Regions from separate parts of the Homo sapiens genome. Here region 2 is linked to region 1. The links come from fine-mapping of genetic effects on gene expression. A gene starts in region 1. The other region holds a variant in brackets. All regions are shown on one strand. Distances are from middle to middle. Region 1 holds the start of DOCK5 (dedicator of cytokinesis 5). Region 2 overlaps DOCK5 (dedicator of cytokinesis 5).

What was found. PIP is the estimated chance that this variant, and not a neighbour inherited with it, causes the effect. A credible set is the group of variants that fine-mapping cannot tell apart.
Region 2: its variant is the best candidate, but not a certain one, in a credible set for the expression of DOCK5 in whole blood (TOPMed, PIP 0.74).

The regions. Positions count from the first base shown.
Region 1 is chr8:25,181,705-25,187,078 of GRCh38, forward strand. It overlaps DOCK5 (dedicator of cytokinesis 5), which reads left to right and starts at 2,985. Exons shown (of 52, transcript NM_024940.8): 1 at 2,985-3,247. The coding sequence starts at 3,205. LOC124901912 (a long non-coding RNA gene) reads right to left here and starts at 2,673. Exons shown (of 2, transcript XR_007060861.1): 1 at 1-2,673. RefSeq lists silencers at 2,803-2,882, 2,893-3,062, 3,233-3,282.
Region 2 is chr8:25,205,257-25,210,630 of GRCh38, forward strand. All of the region lies in intron 1 of DOCK5 (dedicator of cytokinesis 5), which reads left to right. Among named protein-coding and RNA genes, the nearest start is that of DOCK5, 23 kb to the left of the region's middle. The variant G/T (reference allele first, on the strand shown) is at 3,157.

The DNA of each region.
Region 1 (5,374 bases):
GTGCGACCTAGCTGGCTTTAGAGTCATTCTTGACCCAGCTTGTATCTCACATGCAGGGACAAGAACCAAGGTGTGTGGGGCCTGAAGGGTGTACGATACGGGTAGGGCTCTTTAAAAAAAAAAAGAAAAATACAAGCATATCTCTTTCTGGGGGAAAACTTTCCAAAAAAGATTGAAGCCTCACAGTAGTAGATCCCCCTGCCGTTCATGTGGCCCTCCTCTTGGTTCTTTTTCATGCTGTGATGCAATCATAGCTCACTGCTAGCCTCGACCTCCTGGGCTCAAGCAATCCTCCCACCTCAGTCTCCTGAGTAGATAGGGCCACAGGCACAGCCACCATGCCCAGGATATATATATAGTAGAGGAGGGTCTCACTATGTTGTCCAGGCTGATTTTGAACTCCTGACCTTAAGCAATCCTCCCACCTCAGCCTCCCAAAATGCTGGGATTACAGGTGTGAGCCACCACATCTGGCCAGGCTCTATTTTCACGTATGTCAAGAACCCAACATCTTTTTCACCTCCATCCTTATCCTCCTGGACCCAACTACCTTCATGTCTTGCCTGAATGACTGAAATAGCCCCCAACATCCATCCATGTGGGCCTCCCTTGCCCCTTTACAATGGATTCATACCACAGCAGGCAAGTTCAATATGTTCCAGGTTGGCTCAAAGCCCTCCAAACCTCGCTTGTAGTAGTAATATATAAAGTCCATATGCCTGCCAGGGTTCTGCTCTATCTGGCATTCCTCTGCCTCTTAGACCAAGTTTCCTCTCACCTGTTACTCAGCTCTCATTACCTAGGATCTCTGGGTGACCTGGGAACCTGCCAAACACGCTTGGTGTCCTTTGCCTTTGCTGTTCCTCTTTTCCAGAATACTTTCTCCCGGAATCTTCACTTCCTTCAGGTCTACACCTCAACCTCAGCTTAGCAGAGCTGCATTCCCAGACCACTCCATAAAAACAGCAGCACCCTACACGCCCTATCCTCCCTGCTTTGGATTTTTCTCTAATGTTTACTCTCGTTTGGTGTACATTTCTTTACTGTCTTACTCTCCCCGTCTAGACTAGAAGCTCTGTGAAGGGACACATTCTACTGTATTCACCGCTGCACCCTCATTCTTAGAGTGATGCCTGGCACTTAACGTGTAGGCATTTAATATGTGTGTGAAGAAGGAAGAAGAAATTACCTAACCTGGGAAATTAGAATCATGATATACTAATGGAGGAAGATAAATTATTTTAGGGAAGATGGTGGAATTCTTTCTGGATGTCAAGTCTAAAGTGACAGAGGAATTTCTTAAATTATTGTTAAACATTGTGAATAAATACCTATTGGTTGATGGAGAAAAAAAAAGCCAGCTCTAGTAGTTACCCACCGTGAATAGGACTTAAAAAAAATTTCAGACCTCGTTTGGTAAAAAACCACCAAAGTTAAAATGCACTAATTCTCCAATGAAACTTTACTATCTTGTTACCTTGTTTGCCTATCTATCTTTACTGTCTTTTTTTTTTTTTTTTTTTTTTAGACGGAGTTTTGCCCTGTTGCCCAGGCTGGAGTGCAGTGGCGCGATCTCGGCTCACTTATAGCCTCTGCCTCCCGGGTTCCAGCGATTCTCCTGCCTCAGCCTCCTGGGTAGCTGGGATTACATGAGCACACCAGCACGTCTGGCTAACTTTTGTATTTTAGTAGAGAAGGGGTTTCACCATGTTGGCCAGGCTGGTCTGGAACTCGTGACCTCAGGTGATCCACCCGCCTCGGCCTCCCAAAGTGCTGAGATTACAGGCATGAGCCACCACGCCTGGCCAACTACCTGTCTTTACTATCTTTACTACATGTTTGTCTTCCTTTCTTTTATATTCCTAAAACGCATGAAAACCTTCACAGGCTGCAAGGAGGATATAATTTCTCTCTAGAGGAATCTTCTTCGAAGGTGAACGTAATTAAGCTGGTCATTTACTCTACTTGCAATGTTACTTCTCGGTACAAGGTAGGGAGAAACCCCTGGATCTTCATTCTCCAAGTCTCTCCAGGAAGAAATGAATTCCAAGAGGGGAGCTCCAGAGAGGGCGCCACCTGGAGCCCAAGGCGGTTCAAATGCGCAGCCCCTTTGGGATCTTCGTCAAGAAAAGGCAGTCGTTGACGGAGAAAAGACGGGGATGCGCCTTGGCCCTTTCTCCACGGGAATGCTCTCTGGGCTGCTGGCTGGTTGGGAAAGGGAGGTCTGGGCATGAGGGTCTAAGTTTCTTCAGCTTAAGGTTGGGGGGTCCCCGGAGTTTGGGGATACAGGACTTCCAAATTAGGGCTTTCTAAACAATTTCCCTGCAGAGGATCCCCTAGCAAACGGTCTGATACTTCTGAGGAGCCCACCTCCCTTGCACCAGCTCTCCGGTGATAAAAGTTCTGCTTTCCAGGCTCTAAGCGGTGGCCCCGGGAGATTCAGTCTGCCCTGAGTCCGGCTTCTCCCGCTCGCGGCGCGGGTTCAAGCTCCAGGGGGTGAAGGCAGAAGTCAACTGCTCATTCATTCAACAAATATTTATTGCGCGCCCGCTTAGTGCCAGGCACCGGAGGTGCCCCGAGCAAGAAGCCGCTCTCGCTGATCCGTTTCCGCTCCCCAAGTGTCCGGCGCGCGCCGTGGGAGCGCAGCCCGCATCCCTCGCCCACCGGCCGCCCGGCCTGGGCGTGCCCGGCTCCTCCAGCGCAGCCCTCTGTCGGGAGCCGGACCCCCGGGACCCAGCCTCCGGGGTATCAGCCGGGTGGGGAGGGCGGGAGAAAGGCAAAGTGCCGCCAGCGTCAAAGTCCCGCCGGCCCAGGAAGCCGCTCCAGGGAAGCGCGCGAGGCGGAGCCGCAGTCGGCCCCCGCCCGGCAGAGCGCAGAGAGCGGCGCGGGCGGGAGAGGCCGGGCGCCCGCGGCTCGGAGGCGGCCCCGGCGGGCGGAGGGTGCGGCCGGCGGGAGGGACTGGGGCGGCGCCAGGAGGGGCGCGCACTGCTGCGCTGCAGCCCGGCCCAGCAGGTGACCGCGGGCGGCGCGGGCACGGGCACGGGCGCGGGCGGCGCGGCGAGGAGGCGGCCCGCGGAGTCCAGCGAAGTTTGGCGGAACATGGCGGAAGCGTCTGGGGCACGCAGGAGCGCGGGGCGGCGGCGGCCGGAGCCCGAGGAGCTGTAGCAGCCTTAGTCGCCGCCGCCGCGGGGCGAGGTCGCCGCCATGGCCCGCTGGATCCCGACCAAGAGGCAGAAGTACGGGGTTGGTGAGTGCGCGCCCCACCTTGTCCCGGCCCGACCCACGCGGCCAAGTTCGCGGACAGCGGCCCTGCCAGGTTTGCGCAGAGCCCGGCGGAGGACCCTGGCCGGGGGCTCGGCCCGGCTGCGCAGCTCTGGGAGCCGGGGACGGTAGGAGTCCTCTCCAGGGAGCGCCGATGGGGAAGTCGCCCAGGGTTTGGGGACTCCGAGTGCTTCCAAGTGCAGCTGAGCTTCGGGACCGTAATCCCGCTCTTGCATCCCAATCTCCGGCACTTCACACCAGGGAAATGTCAACGCGAGGGGGGCGCGCCTGCTGCTCTTTTGGGGCCGCAGCTCTGTGGCTCGCCCCGGTGCGCCCAGCGTGGGTTTCACCTGGGAGTAGGTGACCAGCCCGGGTCGGCACATGGACTGGTGCTCATTGTCCCAGTGCTTTCTGCCCCCCGCTTTCGTAGGTTCTTCTCAGACGCCCCTTAAGTGAGGAGTTGAGGGTGGAAAGCCGCCCTGCCCCCTTTCCTCCAGAGACTGGGATCTTGATGACAGTTGTGAGCTGGATGGAAACTAGAGTCGTGGCGTGGAAGTGATGGAAGGGACAGGAAGTTGTGGCACGGGAAGGGGGTGGCTGGCCCCTGGGGCTGTTTGTGCGCACTCATCCCCTAACGGAGCCTGTCTGGAGAGGGTGTAAGGCTGCCTTCCGGATCCTGAGTTTCATCCTGGAGACGAGAAGAGGACATTTTATTAAGGAAACTGTGCCAGACCCCGTGCTGGGCACTTGGCATTCAGAACAGCGGTGCTGGAGAGCCCCGGGTTGTGCGCAGGGGTTGCTGGTGGTGGTGCTTTGGCTCCGAAACAATAGATGTGCGGGGATTTTGACCCAGGTGGAAAGTCAGGCTCCTTTGGCTTTTTATCAAGGATTGAAGTTATTGAGGGCCTGTGGGAAGACTTCTGCCCTGAACGGGGTGATTACAATGGCAGTTAGACCTGGGGTGATTCCCTACAATAAACACGGCTGAGTGTGTTGCGAATTTTATCACTTCCTCTCAGATCCATTCATTTGGCCTGTTTGTAATTTAGTCTTTGACTTTACTCCCTTACTGAGGTCCTGTTTTTCCTCACCTCACTGGTTAATGAAGTGCAGTCTCAATTAAGAGCTACTCAACGTGTCTAGGGGCTTTTCAACTCTGTAGCCAGGAGTCAGGGTTTTTTGTTGTTGTTTGTTTTGTTTTTTAACAGTCTCATATTTACTATATTATTCTTAGGTTGTGATCCTTTATATATTTATTATTTTTTGTTTTCCCTCAATTCAAAAGACATTTTCTTTTTTGCTCTTAAGTTGCTTTTAGAATCTTAGTCTCTCCCTTAGCTGCATCTCAGAAATGGGTAGAGATGTTGCTTCTGCCTCAGGGCTCTTTTTTTTTTTTTTTTTGGTTTGTTTGTTTTTGAGACGGACTGACGAGGGAGTCTCACTCTGTCGCCCAGGCCGGAGTGCAGTGGCGCAATCTCGGCTCACTGCAAGCTCCACCTCTAGGTTCCAGCAATTCTCCTGTCTCAGCCCCCCTCCCCGAGTAGCTGGGATTACGGGCTTGCATCACTACACCTGACTAATTTTTGTATTTTTAGTAGAAACCAGGTTTCGCCATCTGGGCCAGGCTGGTCTCAAACTCCTGACCTCAGGTGATCCGCCTGCCTCGGCCTCCCAAAGTGTTGGGATTACAGTCATGAGCCACCTCACCTGGCCCCTAGATGAAAGCATATTTACAATGCCCAATCACTACAGAAATGTTATCAACTCTAATTTTATCAGGATTAAAAGCTCTTTTCAAAACTATTCAGTTGAGGGTAATTAATGCAAACATGTTTCAAAAATGTGGTTTTTATTGCCATAGTCCTAGGAGCAAGTATAATTGTTTTTAATATTTTGTTTTTATGTTCTGGAGTCAGTTTACTGTGTCACTTATCAGTCAAGAAAAATATTTGGGCCAGGTGCGATGGCTCACGTCTGTAATCCCAACAATTTGGGTGGCAGAGGCAGGAGGATTGCTTGAGCCCAGGAGTTCAAAACTAGCATAGCAACATGGCAAACGGGTCTTTACAATAAATACGAAAAAAATTTAGCCGGGCATGGTCGCCTGTGCCTG
Region 2 (5,374 bases), 24 kb after region 1:
CTCCCTCTGTCTCTCTCTTTCTGTCTTTCTCTTTCTCTCTCTATGCTATGTGAGGATACAATGAGAGGGTGGCCACCTATAAGCCGGGAAGAGAGCCCTCACCGGAAACTGACCATGATGGTAACTTGATCTTGGACTTCCAGCCCCCAGAGCTGTTAGAAAACACATTTCTGTTATTTAAGCCACATGGTGTGTGGTATTTTGTTATGGCAGCCTAAGCTGACTGAGACACAGGGAGTTGCGTGTTATTTGAAATACGAGTCCACTGTTGCCAGATCAAAGTTCAATCTCTGTAGTTTAATCCTAGATTTTTCCCTCCTCTTTTACAGGGATTTGAATCTAGTGAAAGTAATTCACATGCACATCAGATACATGCCTTTAGCAGCCTTCTGGCCTTGAAAATCCTGCTGTTGCTGATTCAGTTGTCAGGGCCCAAATCAGCTGGTGAACTCATGAGTTTGCAGGTCTAGAATTGTAGGTGTGGGAAGGGGAGAGAGACATGGGTTACTGAAGACTTGTGCAAATAAATGCTGTGTTCATCTTCACCGATTCACCAGGTATCTGAGTAGGAGGTATGCACTTAGCACTTGGAATACTCAGAGATAATGCCATTGCACACTTAATTGATACTTCTCCTAACACTTAAGAGAAGTGGACATAGATTCTGTTTGTGGGAAGTTTATAATGAATTAAAAGACCCCAAGTATAAAGCCATAAATAACTCCAGGGAAAGGAAGGCTGAACATGAAAAAAGTTGCAAAAAAAGTCCAGTTGGGGTTATTGGAGTTTAGAGAAGCAGAGATTATTCTAATTGAGGGAGTTGAGGAAGCTTCAGGGAAGTAGTTGAACTTTATAGAGATGGACATCAGGTTTGGGAAGGCTGGGGACCTGGCACAGCGTGAGCCCTGGCCCTAACGCAGTTATTTGTGGCAAGTGGATAATGAGGAAGTTGTCCATTCTTGCTGAAGCAAAGGGTGGGTAAAGTGGAAAAGAGGGAAATGATATAGATTTTGTCAGATTATGGGGAGACTTGTTTACCTTGATTTTTTTTCTTCCTCTTTAACCATTCATGCTGCAATAGTGTGCTGGTAAACTAGCTCTGTAGAGTGGGAGGAAAAAACTTGAGTTTGTAGCATTCACCAATATCTGTGGTGTAAATACTCCCACAGTGGCCAATTTCAGACCAGCAGTGGATTAAGAGATAGCTCACAGAATTCCTGAAAATTCCTGAAAATGTAACAGTTGGCCCTTCCAAACTAGTACAAGTTTGCTCCAGTATTCTGTGAAAAACCTGGGCTAGTTCCTACATGACAAATAGTTACAGTACCTGCCTGCCCACAGCCTGGATAGAAGACCCAGGGAAGGCCTAGGTAGCCTCGTTTTACACCATCTAAGATTCCTGTGGCCATCACTGATTGTCCCTGGATGGACACACTACCTAGAGGCCATTCCGTAGCCTGGACAATGACATATGGTTTGACGCAAAGAAGTAAGTACTCAATCAGGTTCCTTCTCTTGGGAATTTGAATGAGGAAATACCAATATGTTTTGCCACAGGGGCAAAAGCTAAAAGGATGTCGTTTGGGAGTTGAGTTGGTGGCAACCTGAAGCCATGTGGAAGCCAATGTTGTGAATGGAAACCACAAGGAAACTGAAAAAGCTGATTGATAGAGAGAGGGGAGCAGATGTGGAGAGACCCTACAGCCCTAGAGTGGCCCCTGTTCTTAGCAGCTTTCCAAGTCCAGGTCTAAAACATCCCTTTTCTGAGGCAATTTGAGTGAGTCTCTGTTCCTTGCAATACCGTGGCATCACTGAAGAAGTTTATGTGGCAACTCAGGGTACTTTGCAGAGCTTTCTATGAATGCAGACATACCTCCTTCTATATAGCACATCACTTTATTGATCGACCATAAGATTCATGGTCGATCAATAAAGCAATGGTTCATGAAGTTTGATGAAAGAAGTTTAATAAAAGAAGCCATTGCCATAGCATAGAAGTGCAAGGTGAGGCAGCAAGTGCTGATATAGAAGCTGTGGCAAGTTATCCAGAAGATCTAGTGAAGATATTGATGAAAGTGGCTACACTAACAACATATTTTAAGTGTAGATGAAATAGCCTTCTATTGTAAGAAGATGCTGTCTAGTACTTTCATAGCTAGAGAGGAGAAGTCAGTGACGGGCATCAAAGGATAGGCTGACCCTCTTGTTAGGGGCTAATGCAGCTGGTGACTTTAAATTGAAACCAGTGCTCTTTCACCATTCTGAAAAATCTGAGGGCCCTTAACAATTATGCTAAATCTACTCTGCCTGTGCTCTATAAATGGAACAGCAAAGTCTGGATGACAGTACATCTGTTGACAGCATGGTTTACTGACTATTTTAAGCCTACTGTTGAGACCTACAGCTGAGAAAAAGAAGATTCCTTGATTCAAAATATTACTGCCCATTGACAATGCACCAGGTCACCCAAGAGCTTAGATGGAGATGGACAAGGAGATTAATGTTTTCATGCCTGCTGACACAACATGAATACTGCAGCCCATGGATCAAGGGATAATTTTGACTTTCAAGTCTGATTATTTAAAAGAATACATTTCATGAAATGGTGGCTGCCATAAATAGTGATTACGCTGATGGTTCTAGGTGTAGTACATTAAAAACCTTCTGGAAAGGATTCCCCATTCTAAATGCCACTAAGAATATTGATGTTTCATGGGAGGAGGTCAAAATATCAATATTAGTAGGAGTGTGGAAGAAATTGATTCCAATTCTCATGGATGACTTTGAGGGGTTCAAAACTTCAGTGAAGGATGTCCCTGCAGATGTTGTGGAAATAGCAAGAGCACTAGAATTAGAAGTGGAGCCTGAAGATGTGAGAATTGCTGCAATCTCTTGATAAAACTTGAGCAGAGAAGAGTTACTTTTTATGAATGAGCAAAGAAAGTGGTTTCTTGAGATGGACTCTATCTTGGTGAAGATGCTGTGAACATTGTTGACAACCAAGGATTTAGAATAATCCATAAACTTGTTGACAAAGCAGTGGAAAGGTTTGAGAGGATTGACTCCAAATTTGAAAGAAGTTATACTGTGGGTGAAATACTATGAAATGCTATCAAATAGCATCACATGCTATAGAGAAATATTTCATGAAAGGAA[G/T]TATCAATTGATCTGGCAAACTTAATTGCTGTCTTATTTTAAGAAATTGCCACAGCTGCCCCAGTCTTCAGCAACTGCCACCCTGATCCATGAGCTGCTATCAATATCAAAGCAAGACCCTTCACCAGCCAAAAAATTAAGAGTCCTTGAAGGCTCAGATGATCATATGCATTTTTTTAGCAATAAAATATTTTCAAATTAAGGTCTGTACATTTTTTAGACATAATGCTATTACACACTTAATTGACTGTAGTGTAAACATAACTTTTATAGGCACAGGGGAACCGAAAAATTTGTGTGATTGGCTTTACTGCAATATTTGCTTTATTGCACAGTCTGGAACCAAATCCACAGTATCTCCTAGGTATGCCTATATAGCAAATTTCTTAAGAATAGAGGACAAATCACTTGCTTCTGATTGAGGTTAAAATATGCCCATGACCTTCATTTCTTTGCCTTCCCTCCCTCCCTGCACTCCTCCCAAATGACTTGTGAATATTATTTTTTCATTCTTTTTCATTCCAGCAGAGCTGGTTTGGAATTCATGATGTTGAAAGAATAGCCAGTAGGAACATGTGGTGGGGTGATGTTTTGTTGGCATTTACCATTACAGAAAATCACAAGAAAATTGGAGCCATTAGCAGCAGGGAAAGGAAAATGAGTTCTTTATCTGCTGAGGGCATCTGGTGAGGGAGGGTCTGTGAAGATGCCGCGGGTGCACTGCTCTAGTATGAAATGCCATTTGAAGGAGGCTCAGAGCACATTAGCGCCGTCATCCCTGTCTGATGTTCTCACCACACGCAAGTTCGTGAATAATTAAATTGTTAGGAAGGGGAAAGTCATGCATGGCGGGTCTTGCCCGAGGCTCAGGCAGACACACAATGAGGTCGCTACTCTGGGAGCCCAGTGGTCCAGGATGCCAGTCTGGCAGTGCCAGGGAAGGATGCTTCCTTTCAATAAGCGAACATTGTGAGGGAGCGGGGTGGAGGCAAGAGACCGCTTAGAAATCAGCACATGTGAATTCTGCTTCAAACTCTGCCACTAACCAGCTATTTGACCTTCCAGAAGTTGCTTCTTCATCTATAATGAAGGATGATGCCAAGAGGATTTTAACTTTTTGAGAAATAAAGCTCCTTTGAGACTGTAATGAAAGCTGTGGATTCTTTCCACAGAAAATGGTGCATATGTCTGTCGATGACATTTCACATACAACTTTAGGAAGTTTAGAAATCTTTGGGGACTCAAGGATCCCAGCTTAAGAAGAAGTCTTGCATGAGATGATGTCTGAACTTTTTTTGTATCTCTACAATTGCATTTTTCTGAGACTTTGGATCTTGGAAGGAACCTAGAATGTCAGCTGGGCTCTCACTTCTACTCTCAACAAGAGGCAAGCCTGCCCTGCCAGCATTTCGTGCAGAAGGCGCAAGCAACATGGGAGCCTCCTGTGTTTTCCTCAAAAGACACCATACTTCTTTTTCATTAGAGACAGGGTCTCAGCCTCGCTCTGTTGCCTAGAGTGCAGTGGCGCCATGATCCTCCCCCCTCAGTCTCTTGAGCTGCTGGGACTACAGGCACATGCCACCATCCCCGGCTAATTATATATATATATATATATATATATAAATGTGTGTGTGTGTGTGTGTGTGTGTGTGTGTGTATCTGTCTATTTATCTATCTATCTATCTATCTATCTATCTATCTATCTATCTATCTATCTATCTATCGAGTAGAGATGGGGCCTTGCTATTTTGTCCAGGCTAGTCTTGAACTCTTGGCCTCAAGCGATCCTCCTGCCTTGGGCTCCCAAAGTGCTGAGATTACAGGCATGAGACACTGCATCTGGCCCTCTATAACCTCTTGATGTGTGCATTCTAAGCGGGAAGAAACAGACAGCAAATGCACAGTATGTATAGCATGATGTCAGTGATCAGGGCTTTGAAAATATTGATGAAGCACAGTGATGCCATAGACAGTGATGGGGTGAGGTGCTGTTGTCGAGTTGGGATGGTCAGATAACGGCTCTGTGGAGGGGATATGTGGGAAAAGATGTGAATAAAAGAGGGATTGGGACCGGGCGCTGTGGCTCACACCTGTCATCCCAGCATTTTGGGAGGCCAAGGTGGATGGATCAGTTGAGGCCAAGAGTTCAAGACAAGCCTGCCCAACATGGAGAAACCCCATCTCTACTGAAAAATACAAAAATTAGCCAAGTGTGGTG